Homo sapiens: one gene and its partners. The protein of the gene in region 1 interacts with the protein of each later gene in a pairwise test. Each region holds a gene or a part of one and is shown in the gene's direction. Other genes may lie near its edges. The genes, in order: L3MBTL2, AMOTL2, GPRASP3 and ZBTB26.

The links.
Region 2: the proteins of L3MBTL2 (region 1) and AMOTL2 interact in binary tests that used the Homo sapiens proteins (3 or more experiments, as listed by UniProt).
Region 3: the proteins of L3MBTL2 (region 1) and GPRASP3 interact in binary tests that used the Homo sapiens proteins (3 or more experiments, as listed by UniProt).
Region 4: the proteins of L3MBTL2 (region 1) and ZBTB26 interact in binary tests that used the Homo sapiens proteins (3 or more experiments, as listed by UniProt).

Annotation. Positions count from the first base shown.
Region 1 is NC_000022.11:41,208,293-41,215,317, forward strand, and holds part of L3MBTL2 (lethal(3)malignant brain tumor-like protein 2), read left to right. Parts: intron 1-829; exon of another isoform or gene 830-1,403; coding exon 1,404-1,641; exon of another isoform or gene 1,642-1,659; intron 1,660-5,337; exon of another isoform or gene 5,338-5,600; coding exon 5,601-5,734; exon of another isoform or gene 5,735-6,411; intron 6,412-7,025. UniProt on the Homo sapiens protein: Putative Polycomb group (PcG) protein. PcG proteins maintain the transcriptionally repressive state of genes, probably via a modification of chromatin, rendering it heritably changed in its expressibility.
Region 2 is NC_000003.12:134,364,436-134,371,460, reverse strand, and holds part of AMOTL2 (angiomotin-like protein 2), read left to right. Parts: coding exon of another isoform or gene 1-27; coding exon 28-761; intron 762-3,598; exon of another isoform or gene 3,599-3,657; coding exon 3,658-3,964; intron 3,965-5,033; coding exon 5,034-5,178; intron 5,179-5,551; coding exon 5,552-5,644; intron 5,645-7,025. UniProt on the Homo sapiens protein: Regulates the translocation of phosphorylated SRC to peripheral cell-matrix adhesion sites. Required for proper architecture of actin filaments.
Region 3 is NC_000023.11:102,744,736-102,751,760, forward strand, and holds part of GPRASP3 (G protein-coupled receptor associated sorting protein 3), read left to right. Parts: intron 1-1,243; exon of another isoform or gene 1,244-1,439; intron 1,440-3,081; 5' UTR 3,082-3,176; intron 3,177-3,963; 5' UTR 3,964-4,260; coding exon 4,261-5,904; 3' UTR 5,905-7,025. UniProt on the Homo sapiens protein: Survival and differentiation promoting protein that plays a role in the regulation of neurosynaptogenesis. Induces phosphatase PP2A activity which results in APP dephosphorylation and inhibits BACE1-mediated processing of APP.
Region 4 is NC_000009.12:122,921,492-122,928,516, reverse strand, and holds part of ZBTB26 (zinc finger and BTB domain-containing protein 26), read left to right. Parts: intron 1-7,025. UniProt on the Homo sapiens protein: May be involved in transcriptional regulation.

The DNA of each region.
Region 1 (7,025 bases):
CTAATTTTTTTTTCTTTTGTAGAGATGGGGTGTGGCTGTGTTGCCAAGGCTGGTCTCAAACTCCTGGGTTCAAGCAATCCACCTGCCTCAGCCTCCCAAAGTGCTGGGATTACAGATGTGAACCACCGTACCCAGGCTCTTCACACGTTTTCTGTTACATGCTGGGTAGATTCATATACATTATCTCATTTGCATCTCACGAGTCAAATATTTTTATTTTATAGATGAGAAAGTTGAAGCCCACAGAAGTTAAATGACTTGCCCAAGGCCCTATAGCTAGTTAGGCTCAGAGCTGAATCTAGCGCTGTAGTACACACCAAGATGCCACAGTTATCTGTGTGTCATCTGCCTCTCCCATCCTCTTTGGAGCAGTCTAGGTCCCAAATTAACTTTTCTGTGACTTAAATTGTTTCTGAGTTGAGATCATTTTGATGTATATTGAACGGGGAAGAATTTTTGTTTTTCTTTTTGAGACAGCATCTCACTCCATTACCAGGCTGGAGTGCAGTGGCGCGATCTTAGCTCGCTGCAACCTCCACCTCCCGGGTTCAAGCAATTCTCTGCCTCAGCTTCCCAAGTACCTGGGATTACAGGCACCCGCCACCACACCCAGCCAATTTTTGTATTTTTAGTAGAGACGGGGTTTCACCATCTTGGCCAGGTTGGTCTTGAACTCCTGACTTCGTGATCCACCCACCTTGGCCTCGGAAAGTGCTGGGATTACAGGTGTGGGCCACTGTGCCTGGCTAAGAATTAATTTCTAATATATCTTCTACCCCAGAAAGTCTTTGTGAAGTACCTTAGGATATTTCACTTTTTTTTTTTTTTTGAGATGGAGTCTTGCTCTGTCACGCAGACTGGAGTGCAGTGGCACGATCTTGGCCCACTACAACCTTTGCCTCCTGGGTTCAAGCAATTCTCTGCCCCAGCCTCCCAAGTAGCTGGACTACAGGTGCCCGCCACCACGCCTGGCTAATTTTTTCTTGTATTTTTTTGTAGAGACAGGGTTTCACCCTCTTGGCCAGGCTGGTCTCGAACTCCTGACCTCAGGTGATCTGCCAGCCTCGGCCTCCCAAAGTGCTAGGATTACAGGCATGAGCCACCGCACCTGGCCCACATTGTTATACAGTATTCTATTTGAACCATGTTAAAATATCATCATTTGTAAATCCACAGAGGAGCCTGGTGAATTCCTAACACATATTTTCTGTCTTGTTAAGCTGTTGAATTGCATCATGGTGGAGAAATGTGTAAATAGAAGTAATGATCTTGGTGTTTGTAAAAGGGGTATTTGAAAGGTTCCCGAAAGTGTGAGGGGGCTGATAGCAGATCTGCAGCTTCTCCCCCCGTGCACTAAAGCCAATCATAATTCTTTCTACCTGGTTTGTGTCATCCTCCATTAGGAGACCCCATCTTCAGAACCAATGGAGGAAGAGGAAGATGACGACTTGGAGCTGTTTGGTGGCTATGATAGTTTCCGGAGTTATAACAGCAGTGTGGGCAGTGAGAGCAGCTCCTATCTGGAGGAGTCAAGTGAAGCAGAAAATGAGGATCGGGAAGCAGGGGAACTGCCGACCTCCCCGCTGCATTTGCTCAGCCCTGGGACTCCTCGCTCCTTGGATGGCAGTGGTTCTGAGCCAGGTGCCTTCAGAGTGTCCCCTGAGGATGGAGAGGAGATAGAAGATTATAGAGGAAGAGGGGGGTGGATATAGGCTATATGGGCAGAGCCATCCAGATGTAAAAGGCTATTAACTCTGATTTCTAAGGGATCAGATGTGTAAGGACCTGTAAGGGAGACAGAAGCACCCCAAGTAGCCACTGTGTTAACTTCCTTTGCTGAAGTCTAATTTCTTTTTTTTTTTTTTTTTTTTTTTGAGACTTGAGTGTCGCCCTGTTGCTCAGGATGGAGTACAGTGGCATGATCTCGGCTCACTGCAACTTCCACCTCCTGAGTTCAAGTGATTCTCATGCCTCAGCCTTCCAAGTAGCTGGGACTACAGGCACCCACCACCACATCCAGCTAACTTTTGTATTTTTTTGTTTGTTTGTTTGTTTGAGACGGAGTCTCGCTCTGTTGCCTAGGCTGGAGTGCAGTGGCGCGATCTCGGCTCACTGCAAGCTCTGCCTCCCGGGTTCACACCATTCTCCTGCCTCAGCCTCCTGAGTAGCTGGGACTACAGGCGCCCGCCATGACGCCCGGCTAATTTTTTGTATTTTTAGGAGAGACAGGGTTTCACCACGTTAGCCAGGATGGTCTCGATCTCCTGACCTCGTGATCCACCCGCCTCGGCCTCCCAAAGTGCTGGGATTACAGGCGTGTGCCACCGCGCCAGCCTAACTTTTGTATTTTTAGTAGAGGCGGGGTTTCACCATGTCGGCCAGGCTGGTCTCAAACTCCTGAACTCAGGTGATCCACCCACCTCAGCTTCCCAAAGTGCTGGGATTACAGGAGTGAGCCACTGTGCCCGGCCCTAGTCTAATTTCAAATTGTGACTTCACTCATTCTTTCATATAACTAATGTGTATTCAGCACAGATTAGATGCCACTGAGTAGCATGGTGCTGCTTTTTTGTATAAGTATACCATGGATTTCCAACGTGGATGTTGAGAAGATAGGAAACCTAAAGTGTTTTGGTTACTTTCTGAGAAGGGACAAATAACTTGTGGTTTGGAAGTCAGGGTGGGAGTGGGAAGGTAATACACGATAAAGTGACCCTGGGTAGGAGGACTGGGTTGGGGGCGGGCAGATGAGAATCCCTATGGATCATCTGGAAGCCAGTTGACTTTGGAAATGTGATGCTTGGACAGCTGCTGAACCCCTGTGTCAGGGCCTCCCATGTGTGGGCTGCCTGTGAAGAGAGGCAGGCTGGATAGTCTGTGAGGACACTGCCATCCTTTAGATCCCAAACTTTTTTTGTTTTATTTTGAGGCAGGGTCTCACTCTGTCACCCTGGCTGCAGTGCAGTGGTGTGAAAATGGCTCACTGCAGCCTCGACCTCCTGGGCTCAGGCAATCCTTCCACCTCAGCCTCCTGAGTAGCTGAGACTACAGGTGCACGCCACCATGCCTGGCTAATTTTTGTATTTTTTTTTTGTAGAGACAGGGGTTTTGCCCTGTTACCCAGGCTGGTCTTGAACTCCCAAGCTCAAGTGATCCCCCACCTCAGCCTCCCAAAGTGCTAGGATTACAGGCATGAGCCACCGCACCCAGCCCCAAACTCGTTAGAAGAGTAATCTAATACTCTTTGCAGTTGAATCTTATTTCCTTTTTTTTTTTTTTTTTGAGACGGAGTCTTGCTCTGTCACCCAGGCTGGAATGCAGTGACATGATCTTGGCTCACTGCAAGTTCCGCCTCCCAGGTTCAAGCCATTCTCCTGCCTCAGCCTCCCCAGCAGCTGGGACTACAGGCGCCTGCCACCACACCCGGCTAATTTTTTTTGTATTTTAGTAGAGACGGGGTTTCACCATGTTAGCCAGGATGGTCTCGATCTCCTGACCTTGTGATCTGCCCTCCTCGGCCTCCAAAAATGCTGGGATTACAGGCGTGAGCCACCGCACCCGGCCTTTTTTTTTTTTTTTTTTTTTTTTTGAAACAGAGTCTCGCTGTGTCACCCAGGCCGGAACGCAGTGGCACGATCTTGGCTCACTGCAAGCTCCGCCTCCCGGGTTCACGCCATTCTCCTGCCTCAGCCTCCCAAGTAGCTGGGACTACAGGCGCCCTCCGCCATGCCCGGCTAATTTTTTGTATTTTTTAGTAGAGACGGGGTTTCACCGTGTTAGCCAGGATGGTCTCAATCTCCTGACTACGTGATCCGCCCGCCTCAGCCTCCCAAAGTGCTGGGATTGCAGGCGTGAGCCACCGCTCCCGGCCTTACTTCCTTTCTATTTATATTGTCTTCTTTTCATCCCTTGCCTTTTATCTTTCTCCCTTCTATCCTCTTCCAGCCCTTCTCTTAGAATCTTAGGATTTAGAACTAGAAGGAACCATTAGAGACCACTTAGACCAGGGGTTCTGCACATTAGAATCATCTAGGGGAGCTTTTAACAAACTACAGGTACCAGTATCCCGTCACAGACCAATTCATTAGAATTTTAGGTTCAGGCTTTTTTTTTTTTTTTTTTGAGACAGCGTTTCACTCTTGTTGCCCAGGCTGGAGTGCAGTGGTGCCATCTCAGCTCACTGCAACCTCCGCCTCCCAGGTTGAAGGGATTCTCCTGCCCCAGCCTCCGGAGTAGCTGGGATTATAGACGCCCACCACCGCGCCCGGCCATCTCAGGCATTTTTAAAAGCTCCCCAGGTGGGTCTAATAGTGAAGTCACGGGCCAGGCATGGTGGCTCACGCCTGTAATCCCAGCACTTTGGGAGGCCGAGGCGGGAGGATCACAAGGTCAGGAGTTCAAGACCAGCCTGCTCAACATGGCGAAACCCCGTCTCTACTAAAGATATAAAAAATTAGCCAGGCGTGGTGGCACATGCCTGTAGTCCCAGCTACTCAAGAGGCTGAGGCAGGAGAATCCCTTGAACCCGGGAGTCGAAGGTTGCAATGAGCCAAGATGGCGCCACTGCACTCCATCCTGGGCAACAAGAGCAAAACTCCATCTCAAAAAAAAAAAAAAGTGAAGTCACGATTAAAACACTGATCTAGCTGGGCGCATTGGCTCACGCCTGTAATCCCAACACTTTGGGAGGCCGACACGGCGGATCACAAGGTCAGGAGATTGAGACCATCCTGGCTAACATGGTGAAACCCCGTCTCTACTAAAAACACAAAAAAATTAGCTGGGTGTGGTGGCAGTGCCTGTAGTCCCAGCTACTCGGGAGGCTGATGCAGGAGAATGGCGTGAACCCGGGAGGCAGAGCTTGCAGTGAGCCAAGATTGCGCCAGTGTACTACTCCAGGCTGGGTGACAGAGCAAGGCTCCGTCTCAAAAATAAATAAATAAAACACTGATCTAGTTCAGTCCCTTTACTATATAGATGAGAAAATAGAGCCACAGAGGTTAAGTGACTTTGGCACTTTTTCTTCCTATAAATTTTTTCGCTTTTTTTTGAGACAGTGTCTTACTTTGTTGCCCAGGCTAGAGGTACAGTGGTGCAGTCATGGCTCACTGCAGCCTCAGCCTCCTGGGCTCAGGCAGTTTCCCCCCGCCAAATCACACCTGGCCTTTTTTTTTTTTTTTTGGGCAACAAGGTCTTGCTATGTTGCCCAGGATGGTCTCAAATTCTTGCCCTCAAGCAATCCTCCCTCCTTGGCCTCCCAAACTGCCGGGATTACAGACAGGAGCTACCATGCCTAGTTTCTTCTCACTTTCCTCTGACAAACTTTTCAACACTCACCTGTTCCCCCAGTCGTCCTCATGGATTTCCATTAGCCCCTCTGTTGACATCTGTAGCCAAGGGAGGCCAAGCAGCAGCACTTCATTCAGGTAGATTCAGGATATACACACCAGTACCTCCCATTCCTCCTCTTATTCCATTAGCCTTTGTGGGGGCAGGGGCTCACCTGGTTAATGCAGTGCCCCAGGTTTTGAAGGGCCCATCACTTTGTTTGCTTTGAGGTGGTCATATCGGGTGAGTCATGTGCTAAGTTCTCTTCCCAGCTGTCTGTGAGATGTGTGGTATCGTGGGTACAAGGGAAGCCTTCTTCTCCAAGACCAAGAGGTTCTGCAGCGTCTCCTGCTCCAGGAGCTACTCCTCCAACTCCAAGAAAGCCAGTATCTTGGCTAGGTTACAGGTGAGAGGCAATCACTTGGATCCTTCCCGGTGCCTTTGGTGCTGAGACAGGAACCACCAAGTGACTGAAGGCCAGGGCCAGGAAAGTTTGAAAAGGTCCTTGCTTGTGGCCAGCTGGTATTTATTATGTTCTCAAACTTCAGAGGACAGTAGAATCCATTTGTGGAGCTTTTTAAATTATAGGTTCCTGAAGCTACGCTCCATTACCTACCATCATCCCCCAGAGTCTGGTGTATTCAGTACATTTTAAACAAGAACTATGGGGGAGTCTGACACCCTTGGTCTTCACCCCACACTTTTATAAATCCTTTCAAAGGAAGTTGGGAAACAGGCCCAAGGTTCACCAGCCACGGTGGCTTCAGGAAGACCATGCCTCCTCGGACTCCATGTCACAGGCAGCTACCTAGAAAGTCTTGCCAATTTTCTAAATTACTGATATTTATAGAATCTTTAGAGATGGAAAGATTCTTGGATGTGGTGTTGAACCCACACATTTATTGATAAGTATACTGAGGTCCAAGGAGGTAGAATGACATACCTAGTGTGGCTCTGTAGGAGGAGAATGGCGGAATTGAGGCTGGAACCTCATCTCAGGGGCCTCATCTTACCTTGTTTCCCAGTAGCTGGGACCAGCATCTGCAACACTGCTTCCCAAATTTGCCTGCATGTTGGGATCACCTGGAAAGTTTAAAAATTATTGATGCTGGTCGGGCACGGTGGCTCACGCCTGTAATCCCAGCACTTTGGGAGACCGAGGCGGGCGGATCACGAGGTCAGGAGATCGAGACCATCCCAGCCAACATGATGAAACCCCGTCTCTACTAAAAATACAAAAATTAGCCAGGCGTGGTGTTGTACGCCTGTAGTCCCAGTTACTCGGGAGGCTGAGGCAGGAGAATCGCTTGAACTTGGGAGGTGGAGGTTGCAGTGAGCCGAGATCGTGCCACTGCACTCCAGCCTGGGGGGAAAATATTATGTAAAATATATTGATGCTTGGGTCCTACTCCGAAAGGTTCTGATTTAACTGGGATGGTGTGTAGCCTGGACAGAGATTGGAAGAGCTCCCAGGTGATCCTAATGTGCAGCGAAGTTTGAGCACCACCGATGTTTATTAGAAATTGCTGTGTCCCAGATCCTTCTGCTTACTGCTTCATACACTGTCGCCTTTGTGAGACAATTACCATTGTTTCCCCATTTTGTAGATTTTACTTAAGGCACCGAAAGATCCCTCTCTTCCGAGAGCTAAGAATAATATTGGTAATATTAATAGCTATGGTTTGGGAGTACTTGCT
Region 2 (7,025 bases), on another chromosome or scaffold:
AGGCAGCTGTGTGCAAGCCAAAGAAGCATGAGGACACTGGAAGACTCCTCGGGGACAGTCCTGCACCGCCTCATCCAGGAGCAGCTGCGCTACGGCAACCTGACTGAGACGCGCACGCTGCTAGCCATCCAGCAGCAGGCCCTGAGGGGTGGGGCTGGAACTGGGGGTACAGGGAGCCCCCAGGCCTCCCTGGAGATCCTGGCCCCAGAGGACAGTCAGGTGCTGCAGCAGGCCACCAGGCAGGAGCCCCAGGGCCAGGAGCACCAGGGCGGTGAGAACCACCTGGCAGAGAACACCCTCTACCGGCTATGCCCACAGCCCAGCAAGGGAGAGGAGCTGCCCACCTATGAGGAGGCCAAAGCCCACTCGCAGTACTATGCGGCCCAGCAGGCAGGGACCCGGCCACATGCGGGGGACCGAGATCCCCGTGGGGCCCCGGGAGGCAGTCGGAGGCAGGACGAGGCCCTGCGGGAGCTGAGGCATGGGCACGTGCGCTCGTTGAGTGAACGGCTCCTTCAGTTGTCCCTGGAGAGGAACGGCGCCCGGGCCCCCAGCCACATGAGCTCCTCCCACAGCTTCCCACAGCTGGCCCGCAACCAGCAGGGCCCCCCACTGAGGGGCCCCCCTGCTGAGGGCCCAGAGTCCCGAGGACCCCCACCTCAGTACCCTCATGTTGTACTAGCTCATGAGACCACCACTGCTGTCACTGACCCACGGTACCGTGCCCGCGGCAGCCCGCACTTCCAGCATGCTGAAGTCAGGTAACTCTCCCCACCTTGGGCTTTCCAACTCCTGGCTTTCTTCCAGCACAGGTCTCTCAGGGAGGAGAGCCTCAAGATCACAGCTTGTGTCAGAGCTAGCAAGATCCACCCCACCTCCAACCTGAGAAGGGAGAGCTAATGCCTGGCAGAGAAGAGGGACTTAGCTGAGGTCCCCTAAGAAGTTAGTGGTGTCCCTTGCCTTAATTCAGAGATAGGCACCATTGTCTGCTTAGCTGTAGCATTCAAGTAACTAGAGTCCCCAGAGTACACAAATTGCAGCAGGGGGTTAAAGGTTAGATTTCAGAAAGAACTTCCTAAAGGCAAGGTTGGGAATGATTGCCAAACTGTTTCCAAGTTAAGCAGGAAGAAGGTGGGACTTCCTTCTCTGGAGATTTTTTAAGAAAATATGAGCAGCTTGCTTTCTGTGATTATTGGGAGGCATTCCTAACTAGAGGCTGGAAAGGCCCAGTGGTCTGATTAGAGACCTCTCAGCATCTTACACCAGGGCAGGAGCTTACTTGTCTCTCCTCTTCATTTCCTGCCATATGCTCCCTGCGTCTGCAGCCTGCAGTGGGAAAGGATTCTGGGTCCAAGTGGGCCCTTTTCTGGTGAGGCTCAGGAGAGGCTGCTGGGCCATGGTAGGGACTTAGAGTTTGATTCTGAGTGTGCTGGGAGGCCCTCAGGGGATGTGATTTGGTTTACCTTTTCTAAATGCTCTCTCTGGCTACATGCAGAGCATGGTTTGTAAGGGGCCAGAATGGAAGCAGGAAGACCCGGGGAGGCAAGAAGTCTAGAGAGTTTGGAGAAATAAGTGTTCCTAGAAACAAGGCCCTGCCTCACGCTTCTCATCTTGCCCAGCATCTTTTCCAGAGAAGCAGACACAGCCATCACTGCTGCATCTCCCCCTATGGGAGTCCAAGAAACCCCACCAAGGGACCCCAAGGATTTCAGACTCTTCCTCTGGTGGCCCAAGGTCAAAGTCTGGTTCTCTTCATGCCTGCTGTGTTCCTTTAGTAAACACCCACTTTCCCACCGTCCGGCTTTCCTTGCTCTCGAGAAATGAGTGACATGATGGGGTTGGTATGGCGGAACCAGAGGTTGGAGCCTCATAGTTTTTCTCCAGCCTCCACCCCTCCAGACTCGCACTTTATCGCCCCTCTCAGGGCTCGGTCAGGAAGAGTTTCGGAAGCTGAGTGGTGGTTTCTTCTTTTGGACCAGCCTTATTGAACCCTGTCAGGAAAAGATAGTAATCACGGCAAGGAAGTAGACTGTTTGCAGGAGAACAAAAAGCAGGGGAGGGAGAGGACGAGGAGAAAGGAAAGCAAGTGTGAAGGGAAAGGAGTTGCTATTCTTTCTCAGAGCTAAGTCATCCCCAAAGAATGCCAGTTGTGTCTGCCTGGCCCAGTGCAGGGGGGAGCAAGTTCTTGAAGCAACCTTGAGAATGGCCATTTTAGCAGTGGAATGGAGAGTTTGAGCACTCCAGTGGGGACCCTCTTCCCAGCTCTTACTGGAAGCCCCACCTTAGGTAGTAGGAGAAATACATCTGCCCAATATCTCCTTTCAGATGATCCAGTGAAGATTATTTGTTAGGAAACGGGCTAGACTCCTAGCCTAGGGTCCTGAGAAGAGCAGGGGGGCCATAGGCTGCATGGCAGCAAGAGTCAGGGGCAGGCTGGGTGTGCATTAGTGCTGAGATGATGCACCCAGAAGGGGAATTCGGTTTTTGCGGGGCTTCTGGGACTTGGAAGATTCTTTGTGAAACTGAGGCAGTTGTGACACTGGGAATCACAAGGTCCCAGGAAGGCCCTTGGACTCCCCGTGCCTCTTGCCCTTTGCTCCTTCCCTCAACATGGAGCCCTGGGGGTGATGTTACACCAGTGCCAGAGGCCAATAGAATATTGTCCCCTGAACTCAGTGACCACAGTAGTCCAGAGGCAGCCCTTACTCCCAAGGAAACCAAGAGTTTGGGCCACATTTGTTCTCTAAACTGAGGGTAAACTGAGGCTCCTACTAGAAGAGATGGAGGATGGGCCACCATTATAGGAGCACCTGCCACCCGCCCAGCACTGGCCCAGCACTCTGCCAGGCCTTACATAGCGTCATCCTCAACAAATCCCAGCGAGGCTGGAGACCCTCATGATGCAACAGAGCAATGCCCAGTCTGTGGGGCTGAGGCACTCGCCCAAGGTTAAACAGCTGGAGCAGGGATTTGAACCCCTATTTGTCAGACTCTAGAGCTCAGACTCTTACCCTGACATTTGTCTCATTGCTCTAACCTTAACTGGAGTCTTCTAAAAATGACTCTGGGTGAGTGGGGGGTGGGGGGTGGCAGGACTTGAAATAGGAAGGAGAAAATGAGTGCTGCTTTGGCAGTCTTGAAACTGGCGACTCGTGTAATAGACACAAGGTTGCTGCTGGGGCCCAGCCACCAAAGTTGTCCTGGGGCCTGGAAGGTTATATGCTCAGTCATGATTGACATGGCCTCCAGCCCCAAAAATAACCTTCCATTGATTAGAAGTGTCAGGGTGCATTTTTTAAGATGATGTATTTAAGCATTAGTTGCTTAGGAGGCCCAGGATTGCTCAGGCTGATCCCCAAGGCCCCAGCCACTGTGAGGCGGGTATGAAACAAGCATCCTGACATTAATCCCCTCTAGCCCTGCTGTCTGACTCTTGAGAGCCTCAGGCAGAAACATTTGGAAAAGGCCTTCCCTACTGGTCCCTGCCTAACACTAGAGGGTTGAATAATTATCTGCAGTAATTTTAATAATATATTAATTATTGATAATAATTAACCATCTTCCCAGTATGCCTAGGAGTGGGGTGACCCCGGGCTGCTCTGGTGGGAGCCATGAGGGTCTGTGCTGTCTCTGAGCACCGTCTCTTCTGTTCCCCAGGATCCTGCAGGCCCAGGTGCCTCCTGTGTTCCTCCAACAGCAGCAGCAGTACCAGTACCTGCAGCAATCTCAGGAGCACCCCCCTCCCCCACATCCAGCTGCTCTCGGCCATGGCCCCCTGAGCTCCCTCAGTCCACCTGCTGTGGAGGGGCCAGTGAGTGCCCAGGCCTCCTCAGCCACCTCGGGCAGTGCCCACCTGGCCCAGATGGAGGCCGTGCTGAGGGAGAATGCCAGGCTGCAGAGAGACAATGAGCGGCTGCAGAGGGAGCTGGAGAGCTCTGCGGAGAAGGCTGGCCGCATTGAGAAGGTAGGCCCTGCTGGGGCTTCAGAAGGGCAGACCAGAAAGAGACCCCGAGGGGCTACCTGGGGAGTGGGTAGTCCAAGGAGAGGCAGAGGAGCCTGAAAACTGTTTGGCTGGATTTCTCCCTATCCCTCTGTCTTCCACCTCCCTCACTCCTCATGCACCCTCCTGAGCTGACTCCAGACAGCTGGGGAACAGCCGAGAGGCCGGCAGAGCAGGCCTGGAGCATGAACAGTTGCTGGCCAGTGGTGATTAGAAAGAGCCCATTCACCAGCTCCTTGCACACTCGCACCCTTGCCCTGCACACACCCCCTCCCATGGACACCTCCCACAGAGAGCCCTTTGTGTCCCCCACACAACAGCAAGTCTGTTCCAGGCCAGCCCTGGCCAAAAAGAAAACTTCTCCTCTTGGAAAAAAAATGGGCGACTTGTTGGAATCACAGGCCAGCTAAGAGCACGTGCGGAACCTGCCAGCAGCCAAGTGGGAGGAGCAGCCGGGGCCCAGCTGGCCCTCTGGGTGGATGGTGATGCCTGGGACACCAGGCAGAGGCAGCTCTGCCTGGTGCCCGCTTCTTTAGTGAAGGGTTACCAGTTTTCCGCTGAGGCTCAGTTTTAGCAGATGGCCTCAGGCCTCCCTTGACTGTCCTGTGGTGTCCAAGTTAGGTCAAACCACCCCATCATGGCTGGAGTCTTTCGGTGCCCACTTCTGGCCAACTGTACTCAGTTTCTTGGTGGAAGCCAGCCAAGAGTAGAATGTTTCCTTCTGGACACTGGGCACAGGGAAGCTGTGTTTAGTCACCCCGCAGGCAGCTACTTCCAAAGTACCTGGCCCTGGGTTCACTCAGCATCTGGTCCTTGGGGCAGCCGATGGGACCGTTGCTTGCTGGTCCCAGCAGTCTATTCTACTTCCGGAGGCTACAAGCTTCTGACCATCCCACCATAGTCACCTGGAGGTTTTGCTCCTGTTTGGTGGCCTCTCATCTGTCACCTTTTCTGATGGAGAGTAGTGGGTCAGCCTCGAATCACTCCCTGGGAGCTCTCGCCTTCATTCAGCTCTGCTGTCTGACTCTTGCAGCTGGAAAGCGAAATCCAGCGGCTCTCTGAGGCCCATGAGAGCCTGACCAGAGCCTCCTCCAAGCGTGAGGCCCTGGAGAAGACCATGCGGAACAAGATGGACAGTGAAATGAGGAGGCTGCAAGACTTCAACCGGGATCTTAGAGGTGAGAGCCAGTCACACAGGTGGAGGTTGGAGAACCTCTGCAGAGGACTTACTTCTTTTGTTCTAGAGAAAAATTGGGAATCTCTATTCTCTGTCAAAAGTGCAGATGAACTCAGAGAGCCAGGCTGAGACCCCTTTGGAGCTGCCCTGATAGAGAGATGCTTGTCTCTATGTACTGGGCCTAGGATCCCCTCAGGGATGATGGCTCTTGACAGAGGAGGCTCCCACCCATGGGGCCCTGAGCTGAGCTGGGGTTTCCTTATGAACCCATCCCCAATATGGAGGATACAGCCCCATCCTGATAGGACGTCAGGAAAAATCCCAAGCTGGCAGCTTCACCTGACACTAAAACATCTTTCCTTCCCTTGAAACAGAGAGATTGGAATCTGCAAATCGCCGCCTGGCAAGCAAGACACAGGAGGCCCAGGCCGGCAGTCAGGACATGGTGGCCAAGCTGCTTGCTCAGAGTGAGTAGGGGCCCCACTAAGAAGCCTGGCCTGTGTGCAGGCAATGGGACTGCTGCACACCCTCTGGACTAGGAAGATTGGCCTTCCCCCTTGCAAAGTAGTACTTTGGGAGCAGGTTTACTGCCCACTGTATGCCCAACACTAGACTGGATCTGGGGATAGTGGGGATAAGTGGCTTCCAAAGAAGAATAGGATCTAGTTCTGTATCTTTTAAGAAGATCAGCTGACACAAGAGGGAAAGCCAGGGAGCAGTGATTTGCTGAGCTTCGGTGCTGACCACCAGTGCAGTGCATTGGGCAGTGCGGGAGGCAAGGTAGCCCTGAAGACAGATGAGGTGAAGGAGAAGGACAGGTCTGAGAGCTTCCCAGGGAGTTCCTGGCAACAGAAAGGTCGGGAGTGTGCAATGGGAATGTGAGAGGTAGGGGGGCATGGTGGAGCTGAGCCATAGCAAGCCAAGTGGAGGCATCTGAGGCAGCCAAAAATGGGATCCTAGACCTTAACCAACAGATGCATTCTAAACGGGGCGGTCTAAGCATCCTTGAAGAATGGGCAAGTTCATTGACTAGTCCATTTATTCATTCATTAGCAGATGTGTTTTAAGCAACTGGCAGATGTTCAAGAGAGAATGGGAGCAGGCCCAGGAAGGTACCATGGCAGGGAGGTCAGGAAGGAAGTGGTGAGCTTAAGAAAGGAGCAGGTTCCCACAGATGCAAAAGAACAACGGGGGTGGCCCTAGAAACCGGTGATTAGGAGCCCCGGTGGCCTGAGAGAGGGGCTCTGTGGGGATGGCAGGGGTGGAGAGCCAGCCAGAGGTGAAGGAGCTATTGGGCAGTTCAAGAGGTACATGGGGTGGGTGGCAAAGGGAGCCCTGAGCTCAGCAGCAGGAGGCTCTAGCAATCAGAAGAGACTAAGAACAGTTATTTATTGAGCTCCTACTAGGAGCTTTAGTGCTGTTCAAGGTGTTTGCAGAGAAGTGGAATGGGAGTGGTTGGTAGCTGGGTAAACATGGCTTTGAGTCTTCACAGGAACCCTACTGTGAATGGCACAAAGGGTAGTGTGGGGTGCAGAAATGGAGGAGCAGCTTGAGGACTTAGCTCTGGCTGGCAGCACCCCTATCTTCCTTCAAAGAGGGTTCAAAGACTAGGGCAGGGAATGGGGGAACACAGCACTGAAGGAATTGACAGGGTGGGGCAGGAGGTAGGCTGGTCTCTTCTGGCTGGGTGGGGTGAGATGGCAGCGGCTTAAGGTCTCTGGGAAGGAGTCAAAGGGAAGGAGGGAGAAAGGGGAGGGGGCAGCCCTGGGGTTTCCCTGAGGAGTCTGGGGAGGAGAAGCTGCAAGGGCACGGCAGATTAGGGTGCCTGTGGAGGAAGGCGGACTTCTG
Region 3 (7,025 bases), on another chromosome or scaffold:
TGGCATACTCTGGGCTAAGCCCTGGGGTTACAGGCAGCAAAGACACACCTATGAATTAGCATTGATCTGCAAACCACAGAGGGTACCATGGAATTGTCATGATTCAGTAGCCCCTCACCTCCTTCAACCCTTGACTGACTATACCGTCTACAATGTGCTGAGAATACAGTGGGGAACAATACCAAAAGGGTACTTTCATTCAGGAAACTTCCAGTCTAACAAGTCAAACTCCCCATCGCTTGGAAGGGAGAGTAAAAAAATATATATATATTCAGAAGAAAAAAGCACATGCATGCATTAGGCAGGGTGCAAGGCTGGGAGAAAAGGAGGAGTTGAGGAGCGCAGCTGGAATCTGGGATCTGCCTCGAGGAAGTGCGCGAATAGTGGTCCCCTCTCCTCCCAGAACAGTGGAGAGGCGCCAAGACCATCCCTACCTGGTGCCATCAAAGAGAGAGGACTGTTACGACCTCCTGCGAGTCCTGACAGGGAAAGGCCCTCTTTTGGGGTCAACTGTGGGGACGGCGCAATGCCAACCTGAGCCACCATTTGAAATGAGAAAAAGCGGCGTGGCAGAAAGAAATGAGTCTGGTACAGACCAGTGGTTGGTTTCCTAGGGTTAGAGGTCTAGGTCTACCTTCTGTTAGAAGAGGGGCAGTGGTGAGGCCTTGATGGGAGCCCCCTGCCCCAGAATTCACTTAAGAGCAGGTGTACCTTCCTCCCCTGCGTGGCTCCATGAAGCTGGGAAAGAAACGCACAAGAGGACCACCCTAGAGGCCCAGGCTTGTTTGGCCTGAAATCGCCTCACCCCTCCCAGACTGCACTGCTGACACCCCCTCTCCCATTAGCTTCCAGGAAGGAGAGTGAGAGGGCTGGGGAGAGGGAAGGGGCAGACACCCAGCAGTCCCTGGTTGGGGAGTTGGGGCGGGGGTGCAGACACACCAAGGGGCGGTTTGGTATCCATCCGCTGCTCCCTCCAGCGCGGCTCTTCCCAACCTCCTGATCCTGTCCCCTGCCTGGGTCCCCAGCCGCCCGCCCGTCCCTATATTATAGCAACGCCAGAAATGTGGTGGTGGTGGTCGCCACGTTAGGGTCCGCGGGGGTCCTCCTGAGGCAGCCTGGTGCCAACCCGCAGGCCCAGGCTGGGGCTCGTCATGGCCCCGCCCACCTCTGGGTCGGAACTAAGGTGGGCCTGAGAGGGGGGCGTCGAGCACTTTCGCGCCGTATCCCTCCGCCCCCCTTCCCGACACCCTCGCGGAGAGAGCGGTTCTTGCAGCATCCTGCGCAGCCCCTGCCCAGTTTGGTGCAGAGGCGTGGGGGGCGGGACGCGTCTTTGCCATTCTGATAGCGGGGAAAGCGGTGAGAATCGAAGTGAGGAGCCGCCAGAGGAGAGCTGAGGAGAGGAGGGGGAGGTCGACGACCTGGGCCCTGGGCCTCTGAAGGCAAGTGGGGGTGCGTGAGCTTGGGGTGGTCCGCCAGGGTGGACCGGCTGGCAGCCTGCCCCGCCGACCCTGACATCCTGGCAAGGAGGAGACGATCCGGTCGGAGCCGGTCGCCGGAGAGAGGTGCGCAGTGCTCGAGACCCCTGGCGATGGGGAGGCGGTGACCGGTGCAGGCCGAGCCAGGCCAAGGGCTGAGGGGCTGGCTTGAGAGGCACCGTCAGATCGTCTGGAGGAGAACCGCGCTGACCGCCTCCAAGCCAGCTTTGCAGGCGCCGGCGCCCCGCCCTCGACGGTGTCTGTGCCCGGAAAGGGCTGTGGGGGAGCTCCTGCGGGAGAAATGGCGGAGCGGGAGCCATTGTGGGGGGCTCCCGGGAAGGCCGGGGGGAGCCGGCGTCCCAGCTCTGTGCCCAGCCCACGAGAGGTGGGCCGCGTTCGCTACTCGGGGCCCTGATTCCGGAAAGGGGCCTGTGGGACCCCGTGTCTTGGGTGCTGTCCCTTCCCACAGGCTCCAGGTGGTTGTTAAAGTCTCCTGTCTGCGTGATAGGTCTGTTGGGTTCTCCAAAAGTGGAACTTTGAGTGGGTGAATTATGAAGACACTAAAATGAAATGTTTAACCGCCTTTTATAATACCGCACTGTTTTATTGCCTTACATATTTAGATCCCCACATCCAGTTTTGTGCAAGCAAATAGGGTGTGGACTTAGTCGAATTTCACAACAGTGGTCCATGTAAATAACAGGGTAGTATTTTTCCACCTTTCTTGTTCAGGATCTGTTTTCTCAACATGCTGATCCACTTTAAGTAATGTAATGATGTGTGAGAATGTGGGTTCCGAGTAGAGGGGTAATCTTTTTGAAGGGTCAATTTAGAACATTTGAAGTCAATCTGCTTCTTCAGTTTATGGTTCTGGAAACCAAAACTCCATCTCCAGCCACTCCTCACAGACCCTCTCATTTTGGTGCAGAAATAGTCCCACAGAAGAATTCATGGCATTTCTGATGGTGGATATCTGAGGAGCTATGAGAGTTGGGAGACTTTATTTACTTAGTTTCTGATTCTCAAAAAGGAGGTGTTAGAATCCGAATTCTGGGAATCTGTCCATTAACCTGCTATTTTTCTACCATTGTTAACATAGTCTCTTGGGGTTATTTTTTGCTAGTTGCTCCGCCTTCTTTTTGTAGGGCGTGACTCTTCTTTGGTGGGAAGGATAGCATCTCCTGAGAACTCCTGCTGTATAAGCAGGCTGACATAGGTGGTGAATAAAGTAGGATCTAGGTATGCATGGGGAAGGGGAAGGACATGCACAGATGGTATTAAAATAACAGTCTCCATTATGTTCCCTGCCTGCCTTGTAAGTACAATTGCCTATGTTCCACTACCTATTTCTGCACCTCATTTTTTTTGGTTCAGGAAAGGAGCTGTAACTTCTATTGGGAAAATGACTGACTTCAAAGTTGGCAGGAGGTGTAATCAGGCTGCAGGTCTTGGGGTGATTAGGGAATCATTGAGGAAGAGCAGACAGGTGGGAGACATTTAACATAGCCTTGAATATTCAAAAGCATATGTTATAATCCTTGTTATAGGCATTAGATCATCTTAGTCTCTTCTGTTTTCTTTCCTCTGCCTTCCTTTCTATCCTTAGGTCTGTTTCTTTCTAGGTTCCTGTAGAGATCTGTATGTAGCTGTTCACTTGGAAGTTAATTAAGAAAGAACAAAAACTATTCATTTGGATTCAAGGTAGGTTTATGTGTGAGCACCCCCGTTGATTGGGGTTATGGAAAGGCTGTTGCCAAGTGGGTTAGACCAGATCATATCTTGGTGCCACTGTCTTCCATCTTTCTAGTCACCTCTGACCTCACATTTGTGTACAAGTGATGGGGTGGGGTGAGCCAGGATTATGCCTATGAGGTAATTGGTAGATATTGGGGCAGGAAATGGGAAGATAAGCCACAAGGAGTACTAGGAGGCCAGAAGTGTTATATAACCAAAGCCCTAGATTTGGAAAGGCAGAAATTGGGTTTAGAGATTAGAGTGTAGGTCTGTCAACCAAATACTCAGAACTCCAATCCCATCTGTATTTTTGTCCATAGGCCTGCCCATGAGTTAACTATAGGGCATATCAACACTGCAAACAGGGAAGGAGGAAAAATTGCACTAGATCAGTGCAGGTTGGTGTGAGTGCTGCCTGAATACACCTATGAGGTCTAGTGGTATATATTTTAGTGGTGGACCTACTAGCATGGGTCCAAAGAGACTGGGCACTCCTTTAGCCTTTCTCACTCTCAGCAAGCTTACCTGCCATCTTTGTTCCTGTTTGATGCAGAGTAAAAGAATGACAGTGCTTGGGCAGGACATTGTTGAGCATTAGTGGCAGTGTGCAAGGTATAAAATTAAGTAGCAGAGTTTTTTATTAATCCACTTCTACACAATTCATTTCTACTCTCCTATGTCCTTCTGTGTGGCTGTTTGCATAGAGAAGCACAGTTAGACAAGACTCAAAGCCAGTTTCTTTCTTCAACCTCAGGTCCATCTCCACTGGTGGCTGTGGTGGCTTTGGATTGTTGGAAGACCATCACCTTCAGCAGGTCTGCACTTGGGAACAATCATTCTCCCCCAGCCCGAGCGTGCCTCTGCCCTCTGTATCATTGACAGAGGCTGTATGTTTGGAAAGAGAACTTTGTGACTGCAGAACTGACAGTTGACTCTAATTCTTGCTACCAAGTTTTTCCCCGACCCAGTGAAAGAGTGTTAAGACTTCGACCTAGGACACATTGAGAACCAAGGCCAAGACTGGACAGGGCCATATAACTGGGCTTCAACCATGGCTGGGACTAAGAATAAGACAAGAGCCCAGGCCAAAACTGAAAAAAAGGCTGCTATACAAGCTAAAGCTGGAGCAGAGAGGGAGGCTACTGGTGTTGTTAGGCCTGTAGCCAAGACCAGGGCCAAAGCAAAAGCCAAGACAGGGTCTAAGACAGATGCAGTAGCAGAGATGAAGGCAGTGTCTAAGAACAAGGTTGTTGCTGAGACGAAGGAAGGAGCTCTGTCAGAGCCTAAGACTCTGGGCAAAGCCATGGGAGATTTCACTCCCAAGGCTGGGAATGAGTCCACCAGCTCCACATGTAAAAATGAGGCTGGTACTGATGCCTGGTTCTGGGCTGGGGAAGAGGCCACTATCAATTCCTGGTTCTGGAATGGAGAAGAGGCTGGTAATAGTTTCAGCACTAAGAATGATAAACCTGAAATTGGTGCCCAGGTCTGTGCTGAGGAGTTGGAACCTGCGGCTGGGGCCGATTGCAAACCTAGGTCAGGGGCTGAGGAGGAGGAGGAAGAGAATGTTATTGGGAACTGGTTTTGGGAAGGAGATGATACTAGTTTTGACCCTAATCCTAAACCTGTGAGCAGGATAGTTAAGCCTCAGCCTGTGTATGAAATTAATGAAAAAAATAGGCCCAAGGACTGGTCTGAGGTAACTATCTGGCCCAATGCCCCTGCTGTAACTCCAGCTGTGTTAGGATTTAGATCCCAGGCACCATCTGAGGCAAGCCCTCCTTCATATATTGTTCTGGCCTCCGCTGAAGAAAATGCCTGTTCTTTGCCTGTGGCAACAGCTTGCCGCCCTTCTAGGAACACTCGCTCATGCTCACAGCCTATCCCTGAGTGTCGTTTTGATTCTGACCCCTGCATCCAGACCATAGATGAGATTAGACGTCAAATCAGGATCAGGGAGGTAAATGGGATTAAGCCATTTGCTTGTCCTTGCAAAATGGAATGCTATATGGATTCTGAGGAATTTGAAAAACTTGTTAGCTTACTTAAGTCAACTACTGATCCTCTTATTCATAAAATAGCACGGATTGCAATGGGTGTCCATAATGTTCACCCATTTGCCCAAGAGTTTATTAACGAAGTAGGTGTAGTGACACTTATTGAAAGCTTGCTCAGTTTTCCTTCCCCTGAAATGAGAAAAAAGACTGTAATTACTCTGAATCCTCCTTCTGGGGATGAAAGACAACGCAAAATTGAATTACATGTTAAGCATATGTGTAAAGAAACCATGTCATTTCCTTTGAACTCACCGGGACAGCAATCTGGATTAAAGATACTAGGACAACTGACTACTGATTTTGTCCATCACTACATTGTTGCCAATTACTTTTCAGAGCTTTTCCATTTGCTGTCCTCAGGAAATTGCAAAACCAGAAATCTTGTTTTGAAACTACTTTTAAATATGTCTGAAAATCCAACTGCAGCCAGAGACATGATCAATATGAAGGCATTGGCAGCATTAAAACTCATCTTTAACCAGAAAGAGGCAAAAGCCAATCTTGTTAGTGGTGTGGCCATATTTATTAACATAAAGGAGCATATCAGAAAAGGCTCAATTGTAGTTGTTGATCACTTGAGTTATAATACACTCATGGCCATTTTCAGGGAAGTTAAAGAGATTATTGAAACAATGTAAAATGAGCCAGAGATAGAACATTTTAAGCCATCTTCAAACTCTAGCAGGCTGTACATTACAGTGTACACATTATACACTGCATCTTTAACACAGAGTCACCTGTGACAGGCTCTAGGTTTGAGCTAGACTATTTTGGGGGTATCAAATGAATATTATACCTTGGGCTGAAAATGTTTGATTTTTATCTTGTCTAGATTGGCATATTTTTAACATTTTACTTAAGATAGCAAACCAGTTCGTTTTAAGTAAGCTAACTTGTTCATTAGTATCTGTGGCTTAAAATGGCAAAAAAGAAAATATCCTTGAGTTTGTAATCTAGTTACAGAAGTAAGGCATACACACACACAAAGATAACAGTACCTAGAGAGAGAGTGTGTGTGAGTGTGCGTGTCTCTGTGTGTGCACGTGCACGCTCATGGCCAAATGTGCGCACTCTACATAAAGGAGGCAGGAGTTCCTATAGGCTATTTAATGTAAGAGAAACTATTTTTCTCCTGTTCCAGCTGTATCAGATACTCGTTCCGCAACACAGAAATGACTCAGAATCTCAGACAAAATGTATTATTTGTTCAATTTTAATTTTGCTACTACATTCATAACTCTTAAATTGTTAGGCTGTTTCATTTACATCAAAGTTATCTCACAAAAGAGAAGGCAGGAAACGTTTTGTGAGTGCCTATTCTATGTCAAACACTGTGTTGGCACCATATTTTACAAGTTTTTTTCCTCTTCTCACAGTGATCTTGTGAGTTAGTTACTTATATTTTTATTAGAACTCATTATTCTGGGTACCCTCCAATGAGAATTAGAGAGGTTAAATACCTTTTCCTAGATTCCCACAGCAGGAAGGTGGCATAGCTGTTTTGTCTGACACCAGAACCCATCTCACCACACTGCTTTACAGTCTTCCTGAAGGACATTTTGAGGTGGGGGGGCCTTCAAAGCTCAGAGACTGGTTTGAATGGTTTAATTTTGCAATGGATCATGTCCATGCCAGGTGTTACAATTCTTAACTTCCTCCAAATTCGTGTGTCCATTAGACATTTGGCTACATCTGGCTGGAGGTCAGGAGAAAATTCTGAGGTAAATAGATGGATTTTATCTGGCAGTGTCGAAAATAG
Region 4 (7,025 bases), on another chromosome or scaffold:
AGTAATTTGCCCACTTCCACATAACAGTTCAAAAAAAAGAACTAGGCCGGGCGTGGTGTCTCACGCCTGTAATCCCAGCACTTTGGGAGGTGGGAGGCTGAGGCATGAGAATCACTTGAACCTGGGAGGCTGAGGTTGCGGTGAGCCGAGATCACACCACTGCACTCCAGCCTGGGCAACAGAGCGAGACTTGGTCTCAAAAAATGAAAAAAAATCAAAAGAAGAATTAAATCTATATTCATCAACATAAATTGCTTTCAAAAACAATGAGTGAAAAAAGTAAGTTGCAAAACAATATGTATAGTTTATGTATAAGAAACTTAATTACGTTATACTTTTGTGGCTAGACATATAGAAGTATTGTTTTTAAAATGCCAGGAGGGGCCGGGCACAGCGGTTCATGCCTATAATCCCAGCACATTGGGAGGCCGAGGCGGATGGATCACTTGAGGTCAGGAGTTCAAGAACAGCCTGGCCAACATGGTGAAACCCCATCTCTACTAAAAATGCAAAAATTATCCGGGCTTGGTGGTGCATGCCTGTAATCCTAGCTACTCAGGAGGCTGAGGCAGGAGAATTGCTTGAACTCGGAGGTGGAGGTTGCAGTGAGCCAAGATTGCACCACTGCACTCAAGCCTGGGCAACAGAGCAAGACTCCGTTTCAAAAAATAATAAATAAATATATAAATAAATAAACAAAATGCAAGGAGGGAGAGTCAGGAAGGATCAAACTTAAACTGAATACTGAGTGGTAGGCAGTTGAGAAGGGGAATTACATCTAAAATCTTCAAAAATTTTTCAAGAAGAATACATTCTGTATATATTACTTAAAAGTTGAAACAAAAGCTTGATAACTTGGAGAGTATCGTGTCATGAAAGTTACCTAAAAGAAGAACAAGATTAAGGTTTATAGAGAGAAAGGCTGTAGTATAATACAGCCTCTTTAGAAAAAGAACATACCATGTCAATGAGGGACAAAGATTTCCAAGTAGTTTTGAGTGGTAAGTTGAAAGATAAGGGCACTTTTATGAGACAGGTGAGGAAGCAAACTGATACCTAGCTTAAGAATTTATTATACAGATAGAAAAATTTTACTTGCCAGTAGTTATTAGAAGCATTTGAGAAAAGAAACTATTTTCTCACTGCCTGTAGTATAGCAATTTACATTGTCCCACCTGGAATATTCAGTAATTAGTCATTTTTTACTATCCTCATTTGAACAAAGGGAAAATTTCAAATTAGTTATAATTGTGGAAGGATTGTATAAATATAAATGAAGAGGAAGTGAGAATATTCCCATTACATTGATGTTTGAGAAATATCATTCAAAACTTGCTAATAGAAACTCAACAGTATTCAGATTTAATCTCAGTAACTGAGGCAATAGATAATAAAGACCTGAACTATGGCAATGATGTAAGAATGGAGGAGTGAGGAGTTGGTGATCATTCTGAGGAAAGAATCAACAAAATATGATGACTGTGTCTCTGATCTACCTGATCAGTTCTTTACTTTCCTTCAGTTACAAGAAGCTTGACTATAACCTAGAATTATCTGAGTGATTTTTATGATTATTTTGAGTAATTACTGCTATACTTAGAAGTTACCTACAGTTGGGGATTGTGAAATCAAATATATTCATAATTTTTATTGTCTGCTTTATTTGCAAATGGCATTAAGTTTCAGTCCACAAAGATAAATACACAAAAGATGGAAAATAATATAAAGTAAAATAGATGAGAAAGGTATAATAAGGATAAAGGCATAATATGCAATCAGGAATATGACTAATACATATATGCTTGCCATTTAAGTCTTCTAATTTCATGCAAATTTGGCTTGAAGTTATAACTTGTTTTTAAACATAAACCTTTTTTTGAAGCATAACAAAAACAAAAATATACAAGTCATAAGTGTGCAGCTCAATGAATTTTCTTGGCCTGTGTTTGTGATACTGAATGTAAGGAAGGAAATCTGAAGAGTTACACAATTTTTTTTTTTTTTTTTTTTGAGACGGAGTCTCGCTCTGTCGCCCAGGCTGGAGTGCAGTGGCACAATCTCAGCTCACTGCAAGCTCCACCTCCCGGGTTCACGCCATTCTCCTGCCTCAGCCTCCCGAGTAGCTAGGACTACAGGTGCCCGCCACCACTCCTGGCTAATTTTTTTTTTTGTAGTTTTAGTAGACACGGGGTTTCACCGTGGTCTCGATCTCCTGACCTCATGATCTGCCCACCTCGGCCTCCCAAAGTGCTGGGATTACAGGTGTGAGCCACCGCACCTAGCCGAGTTACACAATTATTATCCTTGAGATAAAACTGTACCAGCCAGGTGCAGTGGCTCACACCTGTAATCCCAACACTTTGGGAGGCTGAGGCAGACAGATTACCTGAGGTCAGGAGTTCAAGACCAGCCTGGCCAACATGGTGAAACTCCATCTCTACTAAAAATCCAAAAATTAGGCCTGGCGCAGTGGCTCATGCCTGTAATCCCACCACTTTGGGAGGCCGAAGCAGGTGAATCACCCGGGTCGGGAGTTCGAGACCAGCCTGACCAACATGAAGAAACCCCGTCTCTACTAAAAATACAAAATTAGCCAGGCGTGGTGGCGCCTGCCTGTAATCCCAGCTACTGGGGAGGCTGAGGCAGGAGAATCACTTGAATCCGGGAGGTGGAGGTTGCGGCAAGCCCATTGCACTTCAGCCTGGGTGACAAGAGTGAAACTCTGTCTCCAAAAAAAAAAAAAAAAAAAAATTAGCTGGGCATGGTGGCAGGCACCTGTAATCCCAGCTACTCAGGAGGCTGAGGCAGGAGAATCACTTGAACCCAGGAGGCAGAGGTTGCAGCAAGCCGAGATCACGCCATTGCACTCCAGCCTGGGCAACAAGAGTGAAACTACATCTCAAAACAAGAAAAAAAAAATTGTACCTAGATTAGTTGTTTCATACCTGGATTTTGGCATCATGCAGTGTAAACCACCAGTTCCAGATCTAACACTTAACACTTTCAACCTCCGTTGGGGTTTACAAGTTATTTATGTTTTCTAAGCTTAGTTTCGTCATATACAAAATGTGGGATAATGGTAATACTTACCTGTAGAAATTTTCACGATTAAATGGGTCAATTTATTTATTTATTTATTTATTTATTGTGATAGGATCTGGCTCTTTCACCCAGACGAGTGCAGTGGCATGATCATGGCTCACTGCAACGTCTGCCTCGTGGGCTCAAGCCATCCTCCCATTCAGCCTCCCAAGAAGCTGGGACTACAGGCGCATGACACCACGCCCAGCTAATTTTTGTATTTTTTGTAGAGACGGGGTTTCACCGTGTTGGCCAGGCTGATCTCAAAGTCCTGAGCTCAAGCAGTGTGCCCACTTCAGCCTCCCAAAGTGCTGGAATACAGGCATGAGCCACTGTGCTCGGCCTAAATGGGTCAATTTAGGTATAACATCTATACCTGAAATGTAGCAAGGAAGATTAGGTATCATTTCTCTTATTTTTAAATAAAATTAAGATGGTTCATAAGAAACTTTTTTTAACTATCAAAAAAAATTTTTTTTAAGTGTTTAAAACAGGTTCATGCCTGTAATCCTAGCACTTTGGGAGGCCTTGTGGGAAGACTGCTTGAACCCAGGAGTTTTAGGTTACAGCGAGATTTGATTGCGCCACTACACTCCAGCCTAGGCAACACAGCGAGACCCTGCCTCTACAAAAAATAAAAACATTAGCTAGGTGTGGTGGTGTGCACCTGTAGTCCTGGCTACTCAGGAGGCTGAGGCAGGACGATTGTTTGAGCCTTGGTGCCAAGGCAGCAGTGAGCTATGATTACGCCACTGCATTCTAGCCTGGGTGACAGATGACAGAGTGAGACCTTGTCTCAAAAAAAAAAAAAAAAAAGAAAGTTGAAATTTGGTTTTATATTGCCAAAACTATTTTGGTAACAAACCCTAGAAAGAAAGCTTTCCCTAGGCACTCAAAAGAAGATATCATAATGAAGAGCATCTGTACCATAGCCTAGTAATAATTTCATGGGGGAACATTAAGAACTCATTATTCTTCTGTTTTTTGTCAAATGAGCTGTATAAAGTATAACAAACCATTGGTCATTGCCCTCAAATAACTAACAGTCTATTGGAAAGAGAAACTAGTGAAAGGAAACAATTAAGGGATAAGATGTGTGGCCTGGAAATAAGAATTTATCAGAGAGAGACAATAGAGTGGGCTGACACATCCTAGGGAAAACATCCTTTAAGAAACCAATAAATTTTGCTCACATTCTTAGACTACAGCAGACAGATCAAAGCAAACACTTCCCTGAACTATCTGGTTGGCTGCTGTTGTTGATAATTTTCTTGAGAACTGATGGATAGGAAGCACAGTCATGCATCACTTAACAACTGTGATGTGTTTTGAGAAATGCGTCGTTAGGTGATTTCATCATTTTGTGAATATCACGGAGTATACTTAATGCAAACCTAGATGGTATAGCCTACTACACACCTGGGTTGTATGACACAGCCTGTTGCTCCTTGGTTATAAACCTGTACCACATGTTACTATACTGAATACTGTAGGCAATTGTAACACAATGGTGTTTGTGTATCTAAATATAGAAGAGGTACAGTAAAAATATGGTATTATATTCTATGGGACCATCATTGTATATGCAGTTCATTGTTGAACAAAACACTGTCATATGACACATGACTAAATGAAACTACACTCCAGCTCTTCATCTTTAGAGCAAGGAACAATTGTCTCTGAGGATAGTTGTCTAAAGCATTGTGAGTACTGTCATAATATAGGTAGAACCAATGAATGCTTATTTTGGGGTGTGAGGAGGGAAATACTGATCTGAGGGTTTCATAGGCACCTTCAAAACCAGCTAAATGCTAAAAAAGAATGCCACTTTTGTTTGGCCACTTGAAACAGTCATTTTTACAACTCTGGTTACAAATTGGAACATTCATCACTCCAAATCCAAAATGAGTATTTTAAGCTACTGCAGTTGCTAAAAGTGACCAATGATAATAGTTTTGCTGCTTTAAATTACTGACATTTTCCCTGTATATCTTCTACATTTTCCCTTCATGTTTGATACTCACTGTCTTTTCTCTGATGTTTCATTTGCTTGTCTACATCGCTCCTCTCTCAATGCAGTTTTTGTATTTATTGTGATTATCGGTACATTCAAAATGTCATACAAGGGGAAAGATTATGCTTTGTTTGTGTTTTTATTAATATACTTATTACTTCTTCTTATATTGGTGCCACACCAGTTCCCCCTCCTAAATTTCACCTCTCTTTCTTTTTTTTTTTTCTTTTTTTTTTTTGAGATGGAGTCTTGCTCTGTTGCCTAGGCTGGAGTGCAGAGGCGCAATCTCGGCTCACTGCAACCTCCACCTCCCGGGTTCAAACAATTATCCTGCCTCAGCCTCCCGAGTAGCTGAAACTATAGGCGCCCGCCACCATGCCGGGTAATTTTTTGTGTTTTTAGTAGAGATGGGGTTTCACTGTGTTAGCCAGGATGGTCTGGATCTCCTGACCTCGTGATCCACCAGCCTTGGCCTCCCAAAGTGCTCACAGGTGTGAGCCACTGTGCCTGGCCGGTCACCTTCTTTCAATGCCATTCTCATTCAAATGAACTCCTAAATGTAGAATCTTTACACATTCCTTTTATTCATTCTCTATATCCAGTCAGTTACCAAGTTCTTTGAAATATCTTTTGTTATTTTTCCTTTCGTCTTATTCCCATTTTTATTTCTTTCTAGGCCATCATGGCCTCAGACCTGCAATGCTTCTGCAGACACTAAGCTGGTCTTCCTAACAACAGTTCTTCCTTACCACTGTCAAACTAATCTGATAGGTTCAACTAATGCAAACTGAGCACTTGCTGTGTATTTAGTGCAGTCTTAGGCGATGGGAATACACACTGATTTGAACAGAAGAGGGTTTGGCCAGTAATGGGACAAGCAATGTAGCTGCAATAAGTATAATATAATTCAAAGCAAAAGTAAAGAATATTTTGTCTTAGAAGATGCAAGTTCCCAGCATTAGATGGAGATACTTCCCCCTAATACCATGAAACTTGGAGTTTGGATGGGAAGGAATAAGTATTTAATAAAGTGTGTTGAGTGTTACAGTAGAAGTATGCAATGGGCCCAGAAGAGACAATTCTACTCTATTAAGCGGTCAGGGAAGGGCCTCTCAGAGAAAATAAAGGAGTCACAATTGTTTAGAAAGTGGTGTTTTTGTTTGTTTTATTTTACTTTGTTTTTTTAGACAGAGCCTCATTCTGTCACCCAGGCTGGAGTGCAATGGCACAATCTCGGCTCGCTGAAACCTTCACCTCCCAGGTTCAAGTGATTCTCCAGCCTTGGCCTCCTGAGTAGCTGGGACTACAGGCACGTGCCACCACACCTGGGTAATTTTTGTATTTTTCATAGGGACAGGGTTTCACTATGTTGGCCAGGCTAGTCTCGAACTCCTGACCTCGTGATCCACCCACCTCAGCCTCCCAAAGTGCTGGGATAACAGGCATGAGCCACCATGCCTGGCTTGTTTTTTGTTTTGGTTTTTGTTTTTGTGATGGAGTTTTGCTCTTGTTGCCCAGGCTGGAGTGCAGTGGTGCAATCTTGACTCACCACAACCTCTGCCTCCCGGGTTCAAGTGATTCTCCAGCCTTAGCCTCCTGAGTAGCTGGGACTACAGGCATGTGCCACTACGCCCAGCTAATTTTGTATTTTTAGTAGAGATGGGGTTTCTCCAAGTTGGTCAGGCTGGTCTTGAACTCCCGACCTCAGGTGATCCGCCTGCCTTGGCCTCCAGAAGTGCTGGGATTACAGGCGTGAGCCACCATGCCCAGCCTAGAAAGTAGTGTTTTAAACTAAGGAAACAAGTATCATTAGGTCTGGAGCCAAGAGAGAGCTGTTATGTATCAGGCATTAAGGAATAAGAATAAAACCTGGACTCTGCCATCAGGAGCTGATATCCATTGTTACAGAAGTTAAGATGATAAAGATTGG